3 separate regions of the Homo sapiens genome follow, and all the other regions are linked to region 3. The links come from fine-mapping of genetic effects on gene expression. A gene starts in region 3. Each other region holds a variant in brackets. All regions are shown on one strand. Distances are between the middles of the regions.

Region 1 (8,184 bases), 190 kb after region 3:
TCAAGCAATTCTCATGTCCAGCCTTCTGAGTAGCTGGGAATACAGGCATGTGCTACCACGCCCATCTAATTTTTGTATTTTTAGTAGAGAGAGGGTTTCGCCATGTAGGCCAGGCTGGTCTTGAACTCCTGACCTCAAGCGATCCACCCATCTCGGCCTCCCCAAATGCTGGGATTGCAGACATGAGTCGTAGTGCCCAGCCCCATATATCTATATCTGTCTTGATACCATTACCACACAGTACTGATCACTGTAGCTTTTCACCAATTGAGTATCTCTAATTCAAAAATACAGAATGCTCCAAAATGTGAAACTTTTTGAATACCAACATGACACTCAAAGGAGATGCTCATTGGAGCATTTCACATTTCCAGTTATATGGATTAAGGCTGCTAAAGCAGTAAGTGTTAATGCAAGTATTCCAGAATCTGAAATCTGCACACTGTAATCCCAATCATTTTGGATAAGGGATACTCAACCTGTAATATGTTGTGAAATCAGGAAATGTAAGAATTCCAACTTTGTTCTTTTTCAAGATTATTTTGGTTCTTCAGGATCCTTTGAAATTTTCTGTGAATTTTGGGTTGAATTTTTATATTTCTGCAAAAATAAAAAATTATATTGGGATTTCAATAGGGAATGCATGGAATCTGTGGATCCCTTTTGGTAGTAGTGACATCCTAACAGTATTAAATCTTCTAATCCCTGCACACAGGACTTCCTTCCATTTATTTGTGTTGCCTTTAATTTCTTTCAGCACTATCTTCTAGTTTTCAGTATGCAGATCTTTAGCCTCCTTTGTTAAGTTCATTCCTAAGTACTTTATTCCTTTGGATGCTATAGGAAATAGAGTTGTTTTTCAAATTTCCTTTTCTATTTTACTTAATTTGAATTAATTTAGATTTAAATTCAAATAGGCAAATGTGGTTAGTGGCTAAATTTAGAACATCTTCATCATATCAGAAAGTTCTATTAAACAGCACTGCGTTAAAGTATCTGTCAGTGAATCGTCTCTGTTGGAGGATATTTATACTGTATTCTAAACCTACCTTAATTATAAAATTAAAGTCCTTTTCCTGCTGATATGTTGCCCAGACCATTGACTTGCTGAGTATGTGTTCCCCCTCAGCATTGTGGAAACTATTAATAGGAAAGATGATTGTATAGATGGTGGGCTATTAACTCAGATCAGGATGAGAATTGGGAGTGCCTTTACATGTGTGGTACCCAAATGGGTGGTTGGATATAAGAGTAACAAAAGGACTGAAAGGTTTAAAAAAGAAAGAAAAAAAAAAACTCCCTGGTTGGGAGGGTGTTAAGTATCGAGTGTTTTTCCAAACCATTCCTCCTCTGCTCACCTACCCCTAGGTGATTAAAGGAGATAACTTTTAAAAAAGAAAGAATTGGCTCAAAGGTACTGTAATTCTAGGATTATATACCTTTATATAGGTTCATTCCCTGATCCCTGTATTATCAAGGCACAGATAATAATAATCCCCAACCACCCCCACGCCACATCAAAAATTGTCCCTCTTGAGTCTTTTTCCCATTTACATCACCCATTGATCTGATTTCAGCCAAATCAAAATGTTTTGAGAAAAAGAAAAAAAAAGAAGGGCTACTTGAGGTACTTAACCCCAGTCTCCCCTGGGAAAAGACCTGGGCATGCCACCCTGTACACCAGCCAGGAGTGCCCCATATGGTGGCTGCAGCTTTTGATACCCAAAGCCCACAGCAGCTCTGTGAGGCCCCACCTCCTACTTTTGGGGACCTAAAATGGGAGAAATGGTGGTTGAGCAGCTGGAAATGATGCAGAGCTGGCACACACCTTGTGAAGCTCTTCTCTGCCTCTTTCTTCATTTTTTCTGTTTAGAAATCCCAGGGAGACAATGAGCATTATTTGACACTTAAATGTTTTTGCTCCTCTGATAACCCAGACCATCAACTAGGATGCTGCTAAGGAAAATGGAGGGAAGCAATTAAAAGGGACACTGAGGGGAACAAAAGGGAAAGGAAGGAAAAGAGGAGTCGATGCTTGAGCCAGGCAGAAAAGGAGAGAAGAAAAGGTACAGTACTAGTTCATGTGACCTGGGGCTAGATAATACTCTGCCCCTTCCCATGTACGCTTGCAGTCTGCCCTCCTGACAGGTGTTCACATAGGTGCCTCCAGCACGTGCCCCTCCCACCTGAGGGCATTGTCAGGTTTCAGATACTTGGAATGGGTCTGTTTTGCTCTGTACAATTTTTGTTTGTTTGTTTTGGTCTTCATTGACTTTAGAGTAGTGGAACACTTCTCTGGGCTTCCCTTTGCCCATTTTGACTTAGGAAAGTGTCATCTCTCAAGCTGAATTCCTAGTTGGCAATCAGGGAGGGGTGATGTTTTGGCCCACCTTCAGATTTCAGTTTATTCCTGGTAAGGAAGAGCAAAAAAATAAATAGCTGAAATTCCTCACTTTAAACCTGACTTTTCTTCAAAATCACCTATTGTATCAGTTATCTATTGCTGCAAGAGGACAGTAGGTGAAGAAGGACTTGATTCCATTATACAACATCAATATAAAAGAAAAAAATGAGTTTATGTCTAATATAGCAGGCATATAATTTTTTTAAAGACTGAGATATAGTGTGTTTGGGGGGAAAATGTTGAAGAATTAAAAAGAAAAAGATGTGTTTTAATTAAAATTTTTTAAAAAATGAAAGTAACATTTGACATTTGTGGGGGATAAACCAGAATGGGACGTTTTGCTTCAGGTAATTAATTTTAGACACAAAGTATAGGTGCTTTCTAAAAGTATGTACACACATATGCTTTTTGACAAATATGACTCCAACACATCCGGAATCACCTTATTAGTGTCACATTGTGTTAATTCAGTTATACTGTTCAGTGTTAAGCTAACAAGGGCCTTTTGTTGAGATGGAATGGGTATATGTGACATAGCTAAGAAAATTTCTTAAAAGTCATTCAATGGTTTCTAGCTCCACTGTTGAGTATTGTGAGTGTGTTTGCCTCGCTTGTGGAAAAATCTAACTATTGAGTTTCTCTGAACTTAGAGCTATAAAAAAGAAAGAGAGAGAGAAAATGTACTCTTCCTCACATCTGGCACCCGAAGGGCTGTATCTCCATCTAATCCCAAAGCAAGACAACCAGCTCGCTCCCGACTTTGGTAAGTGAAATATAAGTGGCTGGCTGGGTTGTTTCATGTTAGAGAATTAGTAGCTCTCTCCTCTGAAAGTGAACTGTTCTTCTCATGCTGTTTGGCTTTGACTTAGGGAATAGCATTCTTCCCAAAAGGAAAGAAAAAAGAGAAATTGGAATGGTTCCCTAAAGCAACTCTATTTCTGTATCTACCACATAAAAAACAAATACACGGAGCTAAATATCTGCATTCTCTTCCATCGAGTCGTGTTCTAGGTTCTGGCAAGCCTGTTCTCATGTGTCCCCTTTTGTCTGCCTTGTTTGTTTGTGGCCCAGGCTTCCGTCCAAGTCTCTTCCTCATTTGCCTGGCACACCCAGACCGACATCCTCCTTGCCACCCGGCTCAGTCAAAGCTGCTCCTGCTCAG[G/A]TCCGGCCCCCATCCCCCGGCAACATCCGCCCTGTCAAGAGGGAAGTCAAAGTGGAGCCTGAGAAGAAAGATCCTGAGAAGGAACCTCAGAAAGTTGCCAATGAGCCCTCACTAAAGGGCAGAGCACCTTTAGTGAAGGTAGAAGAAGCCACAGTTGAAGAGCGGACACCTGCTGAACCAGAAGTTGGCCCTGGTAAGAGCAAACTCACCTGTGGTCTGGGTGCTCTCTCTTTTTCTCCCGCACTGTTTTGATGAAGCTTTTTTTGTTTTCCTTTTCTTCTTTTATTGGAGACTTGGAAATTTTACTCTAAGGTTAAGTTTAATACCTTTCCTTAAGTATAATATTTTAACTTCGCATTGCTTAAAAATAGTTTTTTACTTAGCAACGCTAAGTAAAAAATTACCTGGCAACACTATTCCTGTGCATACTGGAGTTTAAGGACCCCTGGCGTAGCCTGTGTGCTTGATAGAAGTCAGAATTTTTTCCAGAAGACCCACTGGTTTTCACCTCTGCCAGGGTAACCAGATGCTACTTAGAAATGTAAAACCACCTGGAGCTTGAAGTTCAATATCTCTAGTTGAAAACTGTCTTCATTCCAAAGTTTTCTACTTAAGACTTAATTTGAAGATAGAGGGTGGGGCAAGAAAGAGGAGATGATTCAAGACAGGTGAAAATGGTAGAGAAAGGAGGAGTCCAGTGTTTGCTTCCATGGAAAAAGAAAGAAAGGAAAGGAGGGTCATAGAACATCATAATAGCCATGAAAAAAATCTGTGGAAGCAGAAGTAGAAATGTAAATCTCAAATCATACATCCAAAAGCCTATTGATAGAGCCACAAACACGTGAATTCAGGTGTAGGTTCTCAGTGCTTTTATTGGCTGAGTCCATTTCACAAAATGTGTTCAGAGCACCTGCATCAAAATCACCTGTTGTATTCATTATCTATTGCTGCATAATGAATTAGCAGCATGAAACAACAACAAACATTTATCATATCACATGGATTCTTGGGTCAGGAATTTGGCAGCAGCACAGCTGGGTGGTCCCTGCTCAGGACCGCTCATGAGATTGCAGTCAAGCTGTCCACTAGAGCTCCAGTCATCTCAAGACTCAACCAGATCTGAAAGGTGGCTTACATACAAGGCCGGGGGCGGGTGGCCTCAGCTTCTCCACACATGGACCGCTCCATATTATTGCTGAATGTCCTCATCTATCTGCTTGCTCTGCTGGCTTCTGCCAGAGTGAGTGACCTGGAAGAGAGAATGAGGAGGAATGTACAATGTATTTTATGACCCAGTCTCAGAAGTCGCACACCAATGTTTCTGCCACATTCTGTTAAGTAGAAGCAAGTCACTAGGTGGAACTCACACTCAAGGAGAAACATAGTCTCCAACTTTTGAAGAGAGAGTTTTCAAAGAATTTTTTTTAAGAGTTCAGCTTTTTATTGAACTTGTTACAAAAGAGGTTTAGTCAAAAAGACCAAAGCCCATATCCTCCTTGGACTCCTCAGACTCTCTTTTCTTTGCTTCTATTTCTTCTCCTCAGCTGGAACAGCATTGGTGGAGGGGGCAGGACCTTCTGCTGGTGCAGGTCCACGAGCTCCTCCATTGCAGATGAGGCTCCCCATGTCAACATTGGCCAAGGCTTTTGCAAACAAGCCAGTCCAAAAAGGTTCAACATTTACACCAGCTGCTTTAATGAGGGCATTGATCTTATCCTCCTTGACGGTCACCTCACCCTCATGCAGAATGAGGGCCGAGCCTTATGCAGAATGCAGGCGAGCTCAGAAACAGAGGCCATGGTGTGAGCAAGTGTGGGGCTGGCACTGCCAGGCAAGGTGCTAGTTGCCAGATGAAGTGAGGGTTCCACTTCAATGTGGCCCTACATTCCTCAGAGGGACCGAGTGCAGCTTGGCAGCAGCTGAGGAAAACTGGAAATATTTTTAAACCACCACATCTATAATGTTTTGACATACAGACCCTTGGTTTTTACCTCAGACTTACTAAGTCAGAATATGTAGTGGTGGATATGAGGACTCTGAAAGATACTAAGCTTGTCAGTTGATTCCTAAACATGGTTGCCAGATAGAACACAGGGTGGCCAGTTAAATCTGGCAATGCTATTCCTGTGCATACTGGAGTTTAAGGACCCCTGGTATAGCCTGTGTGCTTGATAGAAGTCAGAATTTTTTTCCAGAAGGCCCACTGGTTCTCACCTCTGCCAGGCTAGCCAGATGCTATTTAGAAATTTAAAACCACCTGGAGCTGTGAATTCAATATTTCTAGTTGAGAATTGTCTTCATTCAAAAGACTTAATTTGAAGATAGAGGGTGGGGCAAAGAAAGAAGAGATGATTCAAAACAGGTTAAAATGTTAGAAAAAGGAGGAGTCCAGTATTTGTTTCCATGGAAAAAGGAAGGAAAGAAGGGCTAGAGCATCATGATGGCCGAGAAAAGTCTGTGGAAGCAGAAGTAGAAATGTGACTCTCAAAAGGAGGGGCTGGAGCAGCCAGGGGCCAGAGCTTGCACTTGCTGGTGCCTTGCTCACTGTGGTGCAGAATTGTGAGCATCAGTGTGGGGCTTCTGGGGCACCAGCTCTCTAGGTCATCTTCCTAAATCCGAGTAAGGCCAGAGAACTTCTGCTCCCATCTTGCATCTTGGCAGCTTGGGATATATAAGCAGAATGAGCACCAGCTCCCAAAGAGGCCCCGAGCTCCTCCCATCTCAGACCTAGAGACAGCTCTGGGGAGACAAAAGGGTCCTCTTCATAGGGTATCATCTTCCCAGGCTGAATCTGGACTCATGGCATGGATGCTGAGGATGCTGCTCTAGTAATGAATGGTTACCGAAGAGTAGGAATTTTCAAATGCAATAAAAGACAAATGGATGATCTCATCTTCTTTTTGCTCAGTGTATAACTCCCCACAGACTCTAACATGAGGCTTTGTACACATTCAATATATGTTAACTGATTTAACTGGTATAAAAATAAGACTTGGTGACAGAGTGTCAGCTTTGTTGGATGTCTTACTTACACATACTGATTTTTTTTATCTGTTGCTTGGTTACAGATAGAACATAGTGAAACCGTGAGAACACACAGTAATAAACATTCCCTTTTCTTTCATAATGGTAAATTCTAGGCCTTGGATGTGGGGAATGCTAGTTTTGGTTTTGTTCTTTGGATTTTGTTTCCAACTGGTTTTCTCCTTGTACCTATTTGTGCAGCTGCTCCAGCCATGGCCCCAGCTCCAGCCTCGGCCCCAGCTCCAGCCTCGGCCCCAGCTCCAGCCCCGGTCCCCACCCCAGCCATGGTCTCAGCCCCGTCATCCACTGTGAATGCCAGTGCTTCTGTTAAGACTTCTGCAGGCACCACCGACCCAGAGGAGGCCACAAGGCTTCTAGCTGAGAAGAGGCGGCTGGCCCGAGAGCAGAGAGAAAAGGAAGAAAGGGAGAGGAGGGAGCAGGAAGAGCTTGAAAGGTAAATGGGAGACATTGCTCCACACCATGGTGTCAGTGATACTTTGGATTAACTCATCACCCCTCTGAGAGGGAGGAGGTGATAATACTGATGAAAGTGAATGGATTAGTTCTTTCAGGATTACTCTTACCTAATTTTCCTATGACTACTAAGCAGTTTGTTTTTTAAATCACATCTTCTTCTTTTTTTTAAATAGAAATGGGGTCTCACTATATTGCCCAGGCTGGTCTCAAACTCTTGGGCTCAAGGGATCCTCCCACCTGAACCTCCCAAAGTGTTGAGATTGCAGACATGAGCCACCATGCCCAGCCATGTTTTCTTATTTTAATGACAGTGCAACAACATTGATGGAGAAAGCTTTAAAGAAAAAAAAAATCCATAATCATACCAATTTTCAGTAATAGTGTACATTTTGGGTGGTCCTTTCTAGTCTCTCAACAGTATGGGAGTGTGTGTGTATATATACATACATATACATATTTACATAATTATAACCACAGCAGAGGTACAATTGTACAGTCTGCTTTTTTACTTAACACATCTCCAATCTCCAGGTTTCCGTTTTATCTTTGTAATTATCACATTAAGGCTGCATAATAAGGGTTCATGTTTTCTCCTTTCCAGATAAAACTCCTCTCGGAGGGTAGCCAGGTGGGATCTTTACATGCCCCATGATTGCCTGCCAGGCAGTATTCCAGAAACAGTTTGTTTAATTGGTCATCTTCTGGGCCTAATAAGACGAATGTCAATATAATTGTTCTTCAAACGAACACAACTGTACCCTGGGGAAGGATCTCATGCACTCGCTGGACCGCCATCTTGGCCATGCCTTTCCCTTGGCTCCAACAGGGAGCTTACATGGCTGTCTTCCTCCTGTCCTGTGACAGAACACTGTGACCCTTATTTATTTACAAAGATTCCCTTTGGCTGGGGTGCTTCAAATTCATTACTAAGAAGTCACATTATTTGAATTAAACAAGTCAGAGCCTTTAAAAAATAGTTAAATTCCTTCCAAAAAGCCAGCTCTCCCCAAGATATTGGTGGTTACACGTTGCTTCTATTTAGCACGGACAGCAATGCAGCTGGCAAGGCGGGAGGAAGTCTAAGGGTGGCTTCGCGCTTTGTCCCTTAGCAGTGGTG
Region 2 (8,184 bases), 34 kb before region 3:
TCACTGTGCTTCTTTGCTAAACATTTTATCGCCTTAGGAATTCCCTAATGTCCACCTCTTTAGATCTCATAGAAGGAGCTGAAAGGCCATATATGTGCCAGTAGGGCCTCAGTACAAGGAGAGCTGAAATGAGTGTTTTCTACACACTCTCAAAAACCTTGACTTGGGTCCTAAAGGAAAGCTGTCTCGGGCAGTTACTCTGAGGCCCAGGAAGAAGGTGCTCTAGAGTGAGGGGTAGCTGGCCTCTGAGTCCAGGGAGGATGAGTGTCATGCATGCTTCGTGGCGGTGGAGACTGGAGTGGTCTCGAGCCATCAGCTTTCTCTCTGGCCTTTCCTTTGGCTCACGGTGATCATTCAAAGACTGAGAATAGGACTGGGTTGACCCAAGAAGAGGAACCAAGCTGGATGGAGAGAGCAGCTGGGCAGCCCTTGGAGTTCTTTCATTTATTCATTCAACAAATACTTATTGAGCATCAGTCGAAGGCCAGGCACTGTACTATGTGCTGGGGATGCTGTGGCGAACTGAACAAAAATATCTGCATCCCCTTGAAGTTGACATTCTAGCAGAAGAAGAAAAACTATACATATATATAAAACATATAGTAATAACAGCTAACATTTTCTTTAGGCCAGTTACTGTTCTTAGTATTCCATGTGTATTTGCTCATTTAATTTTCATGACAGTAATACTATACCAATAGTTCTATTAGCATCCTCATTTTACGAATGAGGAAACAGGCACAGAGGACTTGAGTAGTTTGCCGAAGTCATGCAGTCCTAAGTGATGGAGTTAGGATTTTGACCCAGGCAGTTTGGCTCTGAAGTTTTTGCTTTAACCACCACATTGCTCTGCCTCGCTGGTAGGCCCGATGGTGACAAGTGCTAGGAAAACATAAAGTGGGGTGGGGATTAGGCATTGGAGGTGAAGAAAGAAAGTAAATCACCATTAGCCACTGCAGAGTGAAGGCCTCTCCTGTGGACCTTTAAAATGCTTGATTTTAGGTCAAAAACACATAAAACCCAGGAATTGCCTAAATCTCTAATTACCCCCAAAGAATGTGCTTTTCCAGTACAGGAAATGCCAGTTTGTTGGGGTCTATTCTTTGTCTCCCTGCTGGACCATAGCATCATCAGGGATAGGACTGCCTTGGTCATCACTTCTATGACTGTGCTGAAATAGTTAAATGTGGGAGTGGTTAGTCATATTCAATTGTTTGGTGCCTCCTGGTTTTAAAGTGCATTTGAATGTCCTCTGTAAAAGGAGAAATGAAAGAAAACCTTAAAAGCAACCATCAGAGGGCATGCCTTAGGGGACCAGCATGAAGCTACCAGTGAGTACCCGAAACTGCTGATCAGAATCACATGCTGAATCCATAATGGCCACATGATGGTGGGGCCCTTCTGACTGCTGTTAAGGATGTTGGGAATCCTTTCCTGTGACATCAAATGGTGATTCAGTGGTAGAACAGGTCCTGACCCAGGTTGACAGCTGCTATTGCAGGTCATTGGGGCAGTAGAATAGAATGGTTAGGAGCTTGGGCTTAGCTTGCTGTTTGAGGCCTGGTTCCATCACTTAAAGGCTGTGCAATTTGGGCAACCGATTTAACTTCTCAGAGCCTGAACCTCCTCATCTATGATAGAGGAGTCTACTTTATAAGCTTGCTATCAGGAGTAACTGAGATTGTGAGTGATTTAAATCATAACAGAAAATATTCCACAATTGTTAACTGTTATTGTTATCATTATCAAGCAGGCTAATAATAGTTATCTAATATCTTTAATTTTTTTCTACAATCAATCAGAAGTAATTATTGCCATTGTATTGTTTCTAGATACATATTTGTATCTATATTTAAGCCTACACTTTATAACAAAACCAAATCTAGATATTGGTCAGGTCCTCAAACCCTTAAACCATGAAAAGCCTTTTAATCTGTAACATCCTTCTGAAATCCTTTCCTGGTTTTTGAGGAAGTTTAAAGGATAAAGACTGGAGAGCATCTTTGCAGAAGACCCTGTGTGTTAGTCAGGGTTCTCTAGAGGGACAGAACTAATGGAATACATATATATGTAAAGGGGAGTTTATTAAGTATTAACTCACATAATCACAAGGTCCCACAATAGGCTGTCTGCAGGCTGAGGAGCATGGAGAGCCAGTCTGAGTTCCAAAACTGAAGAACTTGGAATCTAATATTTGAGGGCAGGAAGCATCTAGCACAAGAGAAAGATGTAGGCTGGGAAGCTAGGTCACTCTCTCTTTTCACATTTTTCTGCCTGCTTATATTCTAGCCACACTGGCAGCTGATTAAATTTTGACCACCCAGATTAAGGGTGGGTCTGCCTTTCCCAGCCCACAGACTCAAATGTTAATCTCCTTTGGCAACACCCTCACAGACACACCCAGGATCAATACTTTGTATCCTTCGATCCAATCAAGTAGACACTCAGTATTAACCATCACAACCTGGTACTAGGAGTGCAGGAAATGCATACCGTTAAATCTATGCTGATGCTGAGTCAGGCTCACCAGATACTAGCCAAGATGCTTGTTTTTGAAGGCACATGAGTGAGTTAACATGGAGAGACTGGAGTCAGAACAGAAATAAATGATGACGTAAGTAGATGAAATAGTCTGAACAGAAAACATTTCCCAGAGTAGAGCATGTTCCTTTGCAGGACAGTAGCACACACATCAAAAAACCAGAAGCAACATGTTTTTCTGTTGTAAAAACAAAGTTAATGTCGAAAAAAAAGTTTGCCATTTGAAGTTTGCTATTGGCAAACATGTTGCAACTGAGTTTTTACTAAGAGAAGCTTCCAATTTCTGCATAACTCACATTTTTCTTCTTGAACATGTTTTCATGATGTTATGATTTTGCCTGTGAATCTTTACCTTGGGTGCAGTTTAGTTTGTGGTAAGGAAAAAACCAACAAAGTTTATAATGGTTCCCATTGTGATTTTAAAGTATTCGTTTAATGACAGCTTTCAAGCTTTTCAATATAATCTTATCTCATGAAAACATAAACATGAGACCAAGCTTCCAAATGAAAATATATTAAGAGAAAGAACTCGATGGTGCATTTCTTTTTTATTTTAATAGACTCCTAGAAATTATAATTTTCACAGCCCAGTGGAGGAATTTTAATTTTAATGGTACAGTAAGAAAATGTACAATATAAAATAAAAATGATATAATAGTTTCTTAAAGTTTCTTATATTTTCTTAAAGTTAAATGGGAACAAATAACATCCTACTGTGCTTCCTTAAAGAAGCAGTGTGGGCTGGGCATGGTGGCTCATGCCTATAGTCCCAGCACTTTGGGATTACAGCACTCAGGAGGCTGAGGCAGGTGGATCACTTGAGGTCACGAGTTCAAGACCAGCCTGGCCAACATGGCGAAACCTCAGCTCTACTAAAAATACAAAAGTTAGCTGGGCATGACAGGTGCCTGTAATCCCAGCTACTTGGGAAGCTGAGGTAGGAGAATCACTTGAAGTTGGGAGGCAGAGGTTGTTGTGAGCTGAAATGGAGCCACTGCACTCCAGCCTGGGTGACAAAGCAAGACTTTGTCAAAAAATAAATAAATAAATAAATAAATAAATAAATAAATAAATAAAGAAAAGAAAAGAAAGGAAGCAATATGC[C/G]TTGCTCAAAGGAGAAAAGTTCCATCTGAGGTTGGGGAAAGTGGCTCACATCTATAATCCCAGCACTTTGGGAGGCGGAGGTGGGAGGATCACTTGAGCCCAGGAATTTGAGACCAGCCTGGGCAACTTAGCAAAACCCAGTCTCTACAAAAAGTTTTAAAAAAAATTATCTGGGTGTGGTGGCACATGCCTATAGTCCCTAGCTACTCAGGAGGCTGAGGTGGGAAGAGAGCTAGAACCCAGGAGTTAGGGGCTGCAGTGAGCTATGATTGTGCCACTGCACTCCAGCCTGGGTGACAAAGAGAGGCCCTGTCTCTTAAAAAAAAACAAAAAAAAAAAAACAAAAAGAAAAAATCATTTTGAGAAAGAGCATTTGTTTGAACATTGTAATATATTTTAGTGTAATAAAATAGTCCATCGGTCCGTTCTTAGAAGCAATTGCTTCATTGATGGGTAAGGGGTAGTTTCAAAAATGAAGTTTGAGATCAGCCCCTCTTGGTTGCAAGGAACTGACACACCGTTAGGACAACTGAAGTACCAAGGACATGTTATAGGTAGACACGCATAGCAATAAGGGAAGTAGACTCTTAAGGAATTCCAATCATAGTGCCTAGCCGAGTCTCACAGACACTGAAAACAGAATATGAGCCTGAGGAACTTCAAGTCCCCGGAGTTTGCACATCTTTTCTCTGGCTTGGTTGCTGTTGACCTGCTTGGTGTGCATTTCTGTTCTTGTCCACTTCTCCTCTCCCTCCCTGATATGGTTTGGCTGTGTCCCCACTCAAATCTCATCTTGAATTGTAACTCCCACAATTCCCATGTGTCGTGGGAGGAACCTGGTGGGAGGTGATTGAATTATGGGGGCAGGTCTTTCCTGTGCTGTTCTTGTGATAATGAATGAGTCTCACAAGATTTGATGCTTTCAAAAAATGGGAGTTTGCCTGCACAAGCTCTCTCTTTTTGCCTGCTGCCATCCAAGTAAGATGTGACTTGCTCCTCCTTGCCTTCTGCCGTGATTGTGAGGCTTCCCCAGCCACGTGGAACTGTAAGTCCAATTAAACCTCTTTCTTTTGTAAATTGCCCAGTCTCGGGTATGTGTTTTCAGCAGTGTGAAAACGAACTAATACACTCCCTATTGTCTTTCTCAATTCCATTGCTTCTGCTATGGTTGGACATATTCATGACCCTATTTTATAGCTTCTCTTTCCGGGCAGACTTTCAGGTTGAGATCCTATGGCTTATTGCTCAAATCTCTTTTTAGTTCCCAATTAAAATTTCTGAAAGAATCTTATGGCCTTAGTCTTTTTGGGCAAAGCTTTGTTATCTGACTATATCATGGCTACTGACCAGCGTGTGGGGCAGGTACCTTTTCTCTCTGATTATTTCTTGGTGTTGGTAGGAGGATTGAAGAGGTGCCATATAGTTCAAAATATGGTCTTTCCTTTGGAGACATTTGGAAGTCCAGTTCTTCTCAGAAAGGGCTGTGGGAAGTATGGTGGCTCATGCCTGGAATCCCAGCACTTTGGGAAGTAGTGATGGGAGGCTCGCTTGAGCCCAGGAGTTCGAGACCAGCCTGGGCAATATAGTGAGACCTTGTCTCTACCAAAAGAAAAAAAAATGTGGGGGCAGGGGGTATGGAGATAGGATTACCATGGCAGGTATATCCAGCATATGTTGATGTAAGGATTGTTGATTTTTATTCACAGGGGGCTGAAGAACCGAAACTAAAATGGGAACACATCACAACCCTCATTGCAAGCCTCAGAGAATTTGTGAGATCCACTGACCGAAAAATCATAGCCACCACACTGTCAAAGCTGAAACTGGAGCTGGACTTCGACAGCCATGGCATTAGCCAAGTCCAGGTGGTACTCTTTGGTTTTCAAGATGCTGTAAGTATGATATTTTGCCAGTGTTTTCCCACACACTAAAATTAGTTAGAAAAATAAGATAAAACATAAGTTCTGTTATTTTTCTTTTAAAATTCCAGTGAACTCTATTCTTTTTGGATGAAAAATGTGAGATATTCGCCTCTCAGTGTGCTTCTAAGTATCTGATTTGTTGTTTTGTGTGTTTGCATTCCCCAAATTAAAAAACACATAAAACCAAATCACCATGGAAAATAACAAAATATTTCCCATGGCTGAACTTCGTTCTTATGAAATTATGTTGGGTCATTGTTTATTTTGACAACTTTAGCAACGTAACACACTTTAGTCATACATTTTCTAATGCTATATGAGAAATGCCATCTAGTGGCCATTGAGAAAAATTTAATAGTACAGATTGAAATGGTCACTGCTGAATAAAACCAGTTAATTTTTTTCCAGTTTTTCTCTAGTTTTCATATAGAACATTTTTAACATGTTTGTTTCATAAATACCTACTCTGTTCTAGCCAGAAGTATACTTTCAGAGTACAGAGCATCACTGATTAAAAATTAAAGCACATGATCTAATGAGAGATTGCTGAGAAGTCTTCTCTCCAAAATTGAGTTGCTATGCAACACAAACTAAAGCCAGTCTTCTGTACTGCATTCAGAACCCTCTGTGTTATTCTTGGGTGAGACTTATCTGTGGAACTCAGTGCCAAAAAAGCCTCAAGCCACCTCCAGGAGACCCTTAACAAGATGTGGGAGACTGAAATAAGAGGGTTCTTGATGGTGCTTGTGGTATAAATATGGAAGTATAATTTTATTTAAATTCCAAAATTAATTCAGCCCTAATGTGTGTATTGCTTCTTTGTAGAAAGTGTGTTGACAATTTTATTTGCAACATCAAATGATCCCCAATTTAAAGCCAAATTAGAATCCTTCAATAACTACTAGCATTCTCTGAGACACTGTGTAAGCCACTTGGTCTTTATGCTATATTGTGGGCAGGGACAAGAGTCCTGAGTTGATTGAGGGCATAAGAAATTAAAGCAACTGGCAAAGCCTATCACTAATATTAAATGCTAAAAGCATGCTTATGCTGCAACTAGGGAAACCCAACTGCCTGCAAGTAGAGTGAAATAATTTAGCTAATTTGCACTTGCCCACACATTTGGCCTCTAGCCTAGAGGTTGGAAAGCAAGTTTGCTGTAGAATTCAGACTGAGAGCTATTGGGTTGTACTCCTGGGCCTTGGGCCAGGTCAGACACACACACACACACACACACACACACACACACACACACACACACGTATACACACACGTGTACACATACACGCCTGCTCTTGCTCATTCACTGTCCAGGATGAGAATGAACCCAAAGTATGGGCCCTATGATGTAATTTGCTATGTAATAAAGAGCTGAGAGGAGCAGGTTATGGTTATAACAGATCCCTCTTCCACCTAATAAGAATGTAAATTTTTTTTTTTTTGAGATGGAGTCTCCCTCTGTTGGCTAGGCTGGAGTGCAGTGGCATGATCTCAGGTCACTGCAACCTCTGCCTCCCGGGTTCAAGCAATTCTTGTGCCTCAGCCTCCCGAGTAGCTGGAACTACAGGTGCCTGCCACCATGCCCAGCTAATTTTTGTATTTTTAGTAGAGATTGGGTTTTGCCATGTTGGCTAGGCTGGTCTTGAACTCCTGGCCTCAGGTGATCCGCCCGCATCGGACTCCCAAAGTGCTGGGATTACAGGGCGTGAGCCACCATGTCCAGCCAGTATGTAAATTTTTTAAAGAAATGAAGGTACCAGGACAAACTCAGCCTGGATGGATTTTCTAGAACAAGTGGGAACCTAGCAAGGGTTCATTTCCTGTGCAACTAGTACGATGAAGTCCTCAAACTGACTCTCTTCCAAACTAGGGGAGTTTGATGAAGATGGACCAAGGACAGGCATGAGCAACTGGAGCTCCAGCTCTTGACATGGGTTTGTGGCTGGGTCACCATCTCCCCAGCTGCAGTAGGGATGGTGATTAAATTTTTGGAATTTAAATAAAATTATACTTCCATAATCATACTATAGATACTCAGAGGTATCTAACCAGAGCCCTGTTGGGGAAATAGCCTCTTTTTTTAGAGGTCTGTGTAAGCCAGCAGGTAGTAGAGTTAACCCAAAATCTAAGTGAGCTTGTCATAGTCTTATGCTAAAAGCTTGTTTTTACAAAGGTAATGCACATGATAAATACATACAATGGAATATAATTCAAGCTTAAAAAGGAAAGAAATCCTGACACATGCTACAACATGAATGAAGCTTAGAGATGTTATGCCAAGTGAAACAAACCATTCACATAAGGCCAAATACTGTAATTCCACTTATGTGAAGGTACCTACAGTAGTAAAATTTATGAGAGACAGAAATTAAAATGCTTGTTTTCAGGGACTGTGGGGAGGGAGAAATGGGAACTTACTGTTTAATGAGTATAGAGTTTTAGTTTTGCAAGATAAAGAGTTCTGTGGATGGATGGCGGTGATGGTAGTACAATAATGTGAATGTACTTAATGCCACTGAACCATACACTTAAAAATGGCTAAGATGGCCAGGCACGGTGGCTCATGTCTGCAATGCCAGCACTTTGGGAGGCTGAGGCGGGAGGATTGCTTGAGCCC
Region 3 (8,184 bases):
CAACATCATTAGCCATTTGTGAGAATTTTGGGTCTCAGGCACAAAAGAAGACAGTTCCATTATGGAAGACTCCATTATGGAAAGGTTTGCATTTGAAACGCTTTTAGGATCAATCTAGGCCAGTGATTCTCAACTCAGCTTCGCATTAAAATGACTTGGATGCTTTTTCAAAAATATTGATGCCACCACCTTGGGACAACTGAGTTGTTGTTGTTATTTGTTTTTTCTTGGGACAGAGTCTCTGTCACCCAGGCTAGAATGCAGTGGCACTGTCATAGCTCACTGCATTCTTGACCTCCTGGGCTCAAGTAGTCCTCCCACCTCAGCATCCCAAGTAGCTGGGACTACAGGCATGCACCACCATGTCTGGCTAATTTTTAAATTTTTTGTAGAGACAAGGTCTTACTATGTTCAGCTCACTCTGGTCTCGAACTTTTAGGCTCAAGTGATCATCCTGCCTCAACCTCCCAAAGTGTTGGGATTACAGGCATGAGCCACTGTGTCCAGCCGGAAAACTGTTTTTACTGGTCTGGGGTTGGGCCCAGATACCCTTTTTAAAAATTAGTTTCACAGGTGTTTTAACATGATCAAGCTTCACCTCCTTATTTCAGGTAACAGCTAGAGAGGGAAATGGAGAGCCCCTTTCTATAGAGGGAATAGCAAGATGGTTAACGTTCATCATTTGTTTAGCGTAGCAGGAGGCTACACACCCAGGCCTGAAGCAAAACTGTAACTTGACTTGTGACCTGGAACAACTGAATTAGTTTCTCCAAGTCTCAGCTTCCTCATCTGTGAAATGGAGGAAATGATGTACCTTCCACATAGGTCTGCTATAAGATGTAAATAAGAAAATGGAGGCTGGGCGCAGTGGCTTGTGCCTGTAATCCCAGCACTTTGGGAGGCCGAGGTGGGTGAATCACTTGAGGCCAGGAGTTCAAGATCAGCCTGGCCTACACAGCAAAACCCTGTCTCTACTAAAATTACAAAAACTAGCCAGGCGTGGTGGCGCACGCCTATAATCCCATCTACTCGGGCGGCTGAGGTACGAGAATTGCTTGAACCCAGGAGGTGAATGTTGCAGTGAGCCGAGATCACGCCATTGCAATCCAGCCTGGGCGACAGAGCAAGACTCTGTCTCAAAAAGGAAAAGACAATGCAGGAGAGGTGCTCAGCACAATGCTTAGCATACAGTAAACACTGAGATATGCTTGCTATTGCCATCACTTATCCTTCATTCAAAAGTATTTATTAAATACTGGGTACTACATATTGTGGTGCACCAACAAGATACAGTTCTTTCCCCTGAAGTTTCTTGTCAAGGAATCAAGACAAAGCAGAAACAACAGTGGTGCAGTCAGTGCTATAGTTACATTTACTGTCAGAAGGGGTCAAGGAAAGCTTTCCAGAGGAGTGAAGGTGCAGAGCTGAGCCTGGAAAGATGGTTTGAAACAGAACAGTTAATGCAGGGGTGGTGGCAGTGTTATAAAAGAAACAAAACAGGAATTTGCTGGGAGAAGTAGATCTAATGTTTCCTTTTAACTGCATTTTGATCTCTTTCTTCTGTCATTGGATACTTGGTTTCGTTCATCCCTAGGCCACCACATAAAAAAGCTTGGCATTGAGGAATTATTAACCCATTTGAATGCCCACTGTGTGTGAGGCACGGTAGCAACACAAAAGATATATACCATGCCTACCAAGTTCAGAATGCAGGCAGTGCACATGATGTCATCAAGAACATCTGCAACTCGTGAACAAATAAAATAACTGATAGTTCTAGACTTTATGGACACCCTGTAGAGAAGTAGAGGACAAAGACCCTACTACCAAAAATGTGCATCAGATTGAGAAGGCAAATTTGCAATAACTCATGCCTAGTCTATTTTAACAGCTGGACAAGTATCAAGCCCAGCAAGCCCTGGCCAGGTCCAAAGGACAGGCATGCTGGGAGCCAGGGCAGGAAGAACAGGCTTCATGGAGGAAGTAGACCTTAACCTGGGCCTCAAAGGGAAAGTATTATTAAATACGTCAGGATGAAGGACATCACTTCGGGCAGAGCAGCTTCAAGCACAAAGACTAGAAAGCAGGGATTTGGAAGGTGTTCTGGAGAATGAACAACTCCATGGGCTAGAAATATGAGTTACAGAGGTGAAAAGTGGAAATGGGTAGTAGAGAGCTCAGGGCCCAATTAGGGGGTGGTGGTGGTGATGGTGAGGAGGTGAAGTTAATATTTACTTATATAGGAACGGGGAATCTATTAAAGGTTTTTGAGCAAGGGAGAGGTATGTGTAAAGTGATTGTATATTGCAAGATTAATGTGGTTTGGAACATATTAAATTAACAGCAGGGTATCTTGATAGAATTGTGCAGGGACCATTCAGAATGTATTAGTGGAAGTCAGGAGTGAGGTTAAGGGTATATATTCTGGAGTTGGGAGTCACCAGGATCCGGGATGGAAGTAATAGTAAATGAGGGCTGTGAGAGACAGTAAAGATAAAAAGCCTGTGGTTTACAATTAGGGGATGGTAAAAATATTGGAGGATTAGAAGGGAGGAAGAATCTGAGTCAACAAAGACGAAAGGACTGCTACAGAGGAAGGAGAAAAACCAAGCCAATGGTAGACCAAGAGCAAGGTGATTAGAGGATCAAGTGCTGCAGAAACTCTAGGGGAATGATGGATTTAAAAATAAGTAATTTGATTTGTATACATAAGCAAGAAAAACTATTAATATATAGCTTTTTTTGAAAAATAACGGCACCAAAATCCACATTTATTTTTATTACCTTTGGTGAACAAAACATACGACAATAGATTCTGGAGGGTGGGACGTTAAAGGAAGACATTTTAAGAATCAAAGAGTCTTAGCTGTGTTTATTGGGGTAGAGCCCTTGGGTGCAGAAACATTTAGGGATTCGGGAGAAAAAAGGGATGATGTTTGAAGGAGGCAGGAGGGAAGTGGACGGTGTCAGGAGGTTCAGCTCCTCCCCTGGAATGGGGAACCCTGAAGATTTGAAATGGATGTGGGAGCTCCAGACAGATGGCTTCCATGTTCCAAGTAAAGTACAACTTGAAGTACGACGTGATGGTGTTTGACATTTAACAGATGTCATCTGTTCTCTGCAGAGTCACTCAGCAGCCTCCCCTGTTGCAGACACCTCCTTAGGTTTGGAACACACTGTCTATACAGGGCCTAAGTGCAGGATTTTGGTGTGTTCCTTATTTCATTTATTTTTGTTTAACTTGTGGCAGATAAATACAGGTTATCAAAAGAATGGGACAATGAGTAAGCACACACCAAACTAAACAAAACAAAACAAATAGAAACATCACAAGTCTTGAATTTTTTTTTTTTTTTTTTTTTTTTTTTTTTTTTTTTTGGTCAAAGAAAGAACTCATTGGTTGATTTAAGTCGGTGGTAAATCAGAAAGTTGAAAATAAATCACCCTCCTTCTCCAGGGTTCTTCCGGATAGTTCAACTCTAAATTCAGCTGAGAGTATTTCTGATGCTCAAAGAAAAGTGTCTTAAACTCTGATGTTTTAATGTAGTTAAAAAAAACACAAAAAATCTTTGCTGAGGCCCAAGCTGAGGTCAAAAACTACCTCTAGCCATCTGGTGCTTTATTTTTATTGATTAGAAGTCTCTGATAAGACTGATTTGAATGTGATTTAGGAATATCACATTCTAAATGGTCAGTTTGCCTATTCCATTATAGAAATGACACTACGGGAAAATTCATCATCACAGACCACAGCAGAAGTGTTCTTTAGTTAAAGCTCTACCTAGTCATCCAGAAAGCCAGTAAGTAAACCAAATAAAAATAGTTCACTGGGCTCAGAGTGGCAAGTTTTGCATGCAAAGATCGTGAAAATTGTAACCCTAACAATAAATCCAATACTGTTCTCGACTCTCTTGTGTGTCCAGTGCTGCTGCAGTCCTTGGAAGGCTTTTAAACTGTTCAGAGCTTGCTGGTTATCTTCAGCCAAGCCAGAGAGTGGGAGTGCAGTGCATTTTAGTGTAACCATGCGGAACTGGTCGCTCCTTGATTTTGTGCCGTATGTTTCCATTTGTGTAGGCTTTTTCCCCCCTCAGTATTTTGTTGCTTATCCTTTAGAGCGAAATTGGTTTTTCCTCGGCCAATAATCTGTTTCTTTAAAAAAAGAAAAATTCGTTACCTATTGCCTTTTTTTCTGGTCTTCCTGAGCAAGCCAGAAGTCACAAGGTCGTTTACTAAACGGAAACTAAGAAAAAGAAAAGCCACATCAGCCGGCACAAGCCTCTCTAACTTGTGTGCCCTGAGGCTCATCAGATGCGAAGTCCTGGCGACAAGATAGGGTCGCCCGCAGTGGCTTCCTAAAGCGCAGATCCAGGCCGGCTCCCAGCGTGGAATCCGACCCATGTACTTCGCCTCTCCACGTGGCATCAGATGCTCTGCCGGCTGTCACCGTGAACTCCAGCCCTCGCGGAGCCGACACTGACCTGGCTACTTCAGAGTTCGGAGGGAAATAGCGTCTCCGTACCCTCGCCCCACCTGGGCTGCTCCTCGGACCGCCGCTCGTCCCAGACTCCAGGAGGCGCCACCAGGCCTCGCTGACCCCGCTCCATATCTCCGGGAGCCCTCAGCTGGTCGGCCGCGGCGACCGGAAGCTCCGGACTGAGGTACTGGTTCCGCCCGCCGCTCTTCCAGCCGAGACTCGGCAGCGGCGGTCGGAGCGGCTGCCACGCCGCACCTGCCCGCGAGGGGGCGCGCCAGGCCCAGGCCGCAGCCGACTGCCGCGCTCTCTGTCCCCGCCCTCCGCCATCCCCGGACTGCGCTCACCTGTCTGGGCCGCTGGCCTGGGAGGCGGGGGCCGGCGGGAGCCAAGCCGAGGAAAGGGCGGAGCGGCTCTCCGGGCGCGTCATCGGAGCACCATGGCGGAGCTAGGAGCTGGCGGCGACGGCCACAGGGGCGGCGACGGCGCAGTGCGAAGCGAAACAGGTGACCGCACAGCGGGGATAGTGGGGGTCCCGTCGGGCAGGGGACGGCGAGCGGGGCCGGCGGGCTGGCACCGAAATCACCCGGCGCCGGCAGCCCCCTCCCCGCCCGCGCGGCCGCGGCCCGGAACAACCGGCCCTGCGCGCCGCGCACCCTGCTCCGAGAGCGCCTTCCCCCGCCCTTCGCCGCCGCGGCTCGGCCAGCCCGGCTCGGCCCCGGCCGGGGTTGCGGCCGCCCTCGGGCGCTCCACCGCGACTTTCCCGCAACAGGTGGAGGCGAGCCGGGGGAGGAAACGGAGAGACCCCGGCCGCTGCCCTCCCCGCCGCGGCCTCGGGTCTAATTCAGTTGAATGGGAAATCGTATCCCCCAGACCAAACCAGTGGCCAGAGAGTCGTCGGCCAGGTGCGACTGGCAGGACGAGCAGTTTCTGGGCACCTCCTCCCGCCTTCCCTGGTCGCCCCGGGTGCCGGGGGCTCCTCAGCGGGGTCGGTGTGGGGCAGGACCGCGGGGTGAGCGGCCCGCCCCCCAATCTGGTGCCCGCAGTGGCGACGACCGTCGTCCGAGGGGACCGAGCTCGGGAGGGCCGGGGCCCAGTGCAGCACGGTGGGGGTTTGCGAGTGCGGGCTTGACGGGATCAGACTTTCGTTGACTTGTCGGAGTTCTCAGAGTTTTTTGTTTTTAGTCTGTGCAGGAGCCCAAAGGAGGATTGTTGGCTCTGCAGCCCGGGATTTGGTGGTCAGGCCTCTGTGTTGAGGATACCCCTCCCCCACAACCTCCAGGGGCACACTTAGGGACAGGGGATCACGTCCCCAAGACCAGCAGCAAGGCTTCCCAAGACCAGCAGCAAGGCTTCCCAACCCCGCCCATCTCTCCATAGTATGAAGCCGATTTTTCTCCCTCGTGATTTTTTTTTCTCCAGAGGCTATCTTGCAAATCCGTCCCTCTCCACTGGTTCCCTCTTCTATTCTTGGCCAGTAAGCTGTTTCTATATCTTCCTACACTTGGGGATGGGGGCAGTGAGGCAGTTTCTTACTTTAAAAAGAAATTCAATTCTTAGACTCTCCAATTGCAAGCTGTTTTCCACTTCCATACGGTCACAATCGGAAGCATTTGTTTCCTAAATGTAAGAATCACTGTCTCCCCACCATCAAGTATGCTTATTTTAACGTGAAAGGTCCAGAGAGCTCTGAAACAGTATTTGCAAATTATGTATCTGCTATTGCTAGGAAGAGGTTGGGTACGTAAAGTCTAATGATTTAATCCCTTCAGCCAAGATACCTGAGGTTAAGACTGACAAAGTATCTTGAACTTGTTTAAGTCATGCTCCTTCCTGTAGGGAGTTTGTCTTAATGTGTTCGCAAGATTGGTAGATCATTATTTTGTTTTGGGGTGGAGAAGAGATGCCTTTGTAATTGCTTTCGGGAATTTGATGAGCTAGACGCTGGGACGGGGCTCCCCCAAGTGAGGGCCCCGGGAGAGGAGCATCCTCATTTGTAAATATACGGCATGATTTTCGTTCCTAACCCTGACCCAGTAACTGCATGTGAAACAACATTGTTCTAGCGAGCTAAGTGTTAGTTTGTGCTCAAAAATAAACTTTCTAGAATCTGCACGTGAACAACTTGTTCAGACATAAGTGAACTGACTACAAACTGTAGGATATTCAGTGCCTGAGCATGTTAAGGAATAGGCCGTGCTTCCAACAATTAATATACAAATCAACCATGTGCCTGTCAGTGTAATATTTTCTTTTATTAAAAAGGGAGTTAAATTGGCTGTTATCTCCTTCATAGAAAACATTTCTTCCACACTTTTGCCTAAAAACTTCATTTTCCAAAGGACATTTTTTATATATGGTCTTGAATAATTATACTTTATAATTTCACTGAAAACTTAATTCTGGCCCCGCATCTCTTTCCTATTTTTCTACCCCAAGATTACTATTAATGTTTTTAGTGTTCAGAAGCATTTGTGTCAGCAGGTGCCAAAGAAAGAAGGAAGGTGTAAATGTATTTTTTTGAATCTAGGTGGTAGTTATTTTGAGAGAACAAGTGAGATTGTTTGAATTTCAACAACTTAAGTTATTCCATATATTTAAAACACATGACCTATATCTGAATATGAGACTTTAATTTAGCACTTCATTCTGGTGAACATATTTCACATTATACACATCCAAATACTGCAAGTCTCATTTTTTTAAACAATCAGAAGTTTGTATGGAATTGTTGGGGGGGTGGGGGGGGGTGGTGGTGGTGGGTGGCCGTGGACAGAGAAACTATTACCATCAAGAGTTGAAAATTGCCACCTTAAATGGCAACATTTCTTGAGGGATTAATTTTATTTCTTTTTAGAACTCATTATTATGAGGTAGAGTCCACTCTTAAATAACTCTTAGTTTTTGGGTCTCTATACAAAGACTGGTCTAATTTTAGGGCACTTTAGATGAGAATATCAGGTTATTATAAAAATGATACCTGTAATGTGTTCAGAATTATATGTGTGAGTGTGTGTGTGTGTATATGTGTATCAAAGATGAATTGACAGTGGTGGCGTGTGGCCTATGAAATGAGACCGTTCTTAAGCATATTGAAAGCTATTATATAAACCCAACATTTAAAAACCCTATTTCTGTGGGTATATATTCTCAAAGTTAGTCAAATCACATTCTTTGTGGCGAAAACATTTATTTTTCTTGAGGATGAAAAGTTCTTCCAATATAATATTTTTCTTGCCAACAGCCAAAGTTAAGAGCTGGGAAAAAAAAAATTGCCTTGGAAACAAGTTTAAGACATCACCACTAGAGGATGTCAAGTCCTTTTTCAGCCTTTTTTGAGTAGTCGACCTACGATGGGTGATATTCACAAAACTGCCTCTACCCAAGCTTTGTATATTTAATTTTATGTTCATGTTCAAGAGCTGTGGAAAGCGAGTGTACAGCACTAATTTCCTAGTCTGATAGCCTGTTTTAAAAACCTCCTGAACTAAAAGCAAATTTAAAGCTGCTTTTGATTAATTCATGAAGCTTTCATGCACGAAGGAATAAGTTAATGCCAATAACCTGTCAATTCTGTTGATATTTTGGGAAGTGGGTCATGACTTAGAATCTGGAATTGGGCTTTTTGTCCATTTTAGCAACCTGTGTGGTGAACATGGCCTCTTTCGTGACCATCCTTTCATGAACTTTTCCAAATCAAAAAGTGATCTTGT

What was found. PIP is the estimated chance that this variant, and not a neighbour inherited with it, causes the effect.
Region 1: its variant is fine-mapped to the expression of MAP7 in blood mononuclear cells (TOPMed, PIP above 0.99). The same link has a PIP of 0.9 or more in T cells, lung, monocytes, subcutaneous fat, tibial nerve and whole blood.
Region 2: its variant is fine-mapped to the expression of MAP7 in coronary artery (GTEx, PIP above 0.99).

The regions. Positions count from the first base shown.
Region 1 is chr6:136,361,310-136,369,493 of GRCh38, reverse strand. MAP7 (microtubule associated protein 7) reads left to right here. Exons shown (of 18, transcript NM_003980.6): 9 at 3,055-3,167; 10 at 3,476-3,759; 11 at 6,792-7,044. It also overlaps the pseudogene RPLP1P8. Among named protein-coding and RNA genes, the nearest start is that of BCLAF1, 76 kb to the right of the region's middle. The variant G/A (reference allele first, on the strand shown) is at 3,567.
Region 2 is chr6:136,580,908-136,589,091 of GRCh38, reverse strand. MAP3K5 (mitogen-activated protein kinase kinase kinase 5) reads left to right here. Exons shown (of 30, transcript NM_005923.4): 24 at 5,352-5,537. Among named protein-coding and RNA genes, the nearest start is that of MAP7-AS1, 32 kb to the right of the region's middle. The variant C/G (reference allele first, on the strand shown) is at 3,646.
Region 3 is chr6:136,547,135-136,555,318 of GRCh38, reverse strand. It overlaps MAP7 (microtubule associated protein 7), which reads left to right and starts at 4,897. Exons shown (of 18, transcript NM_003980.6): 1 at 4,897-4,977. The coding sequence starts at 4,911. It overlaps MAP7-AS1 (MAP7 antisense RNA 1), which reads left to right and starts at 2,814. Exons shown (of 1, transcript NR_186370.1): 1 at 2,814-4,596. RefSeq lists silencers at 4,596-4,945, 4,986-5,165, 5,176-5,225 and enhancers at 4,447-4,984, 5,523-6,061.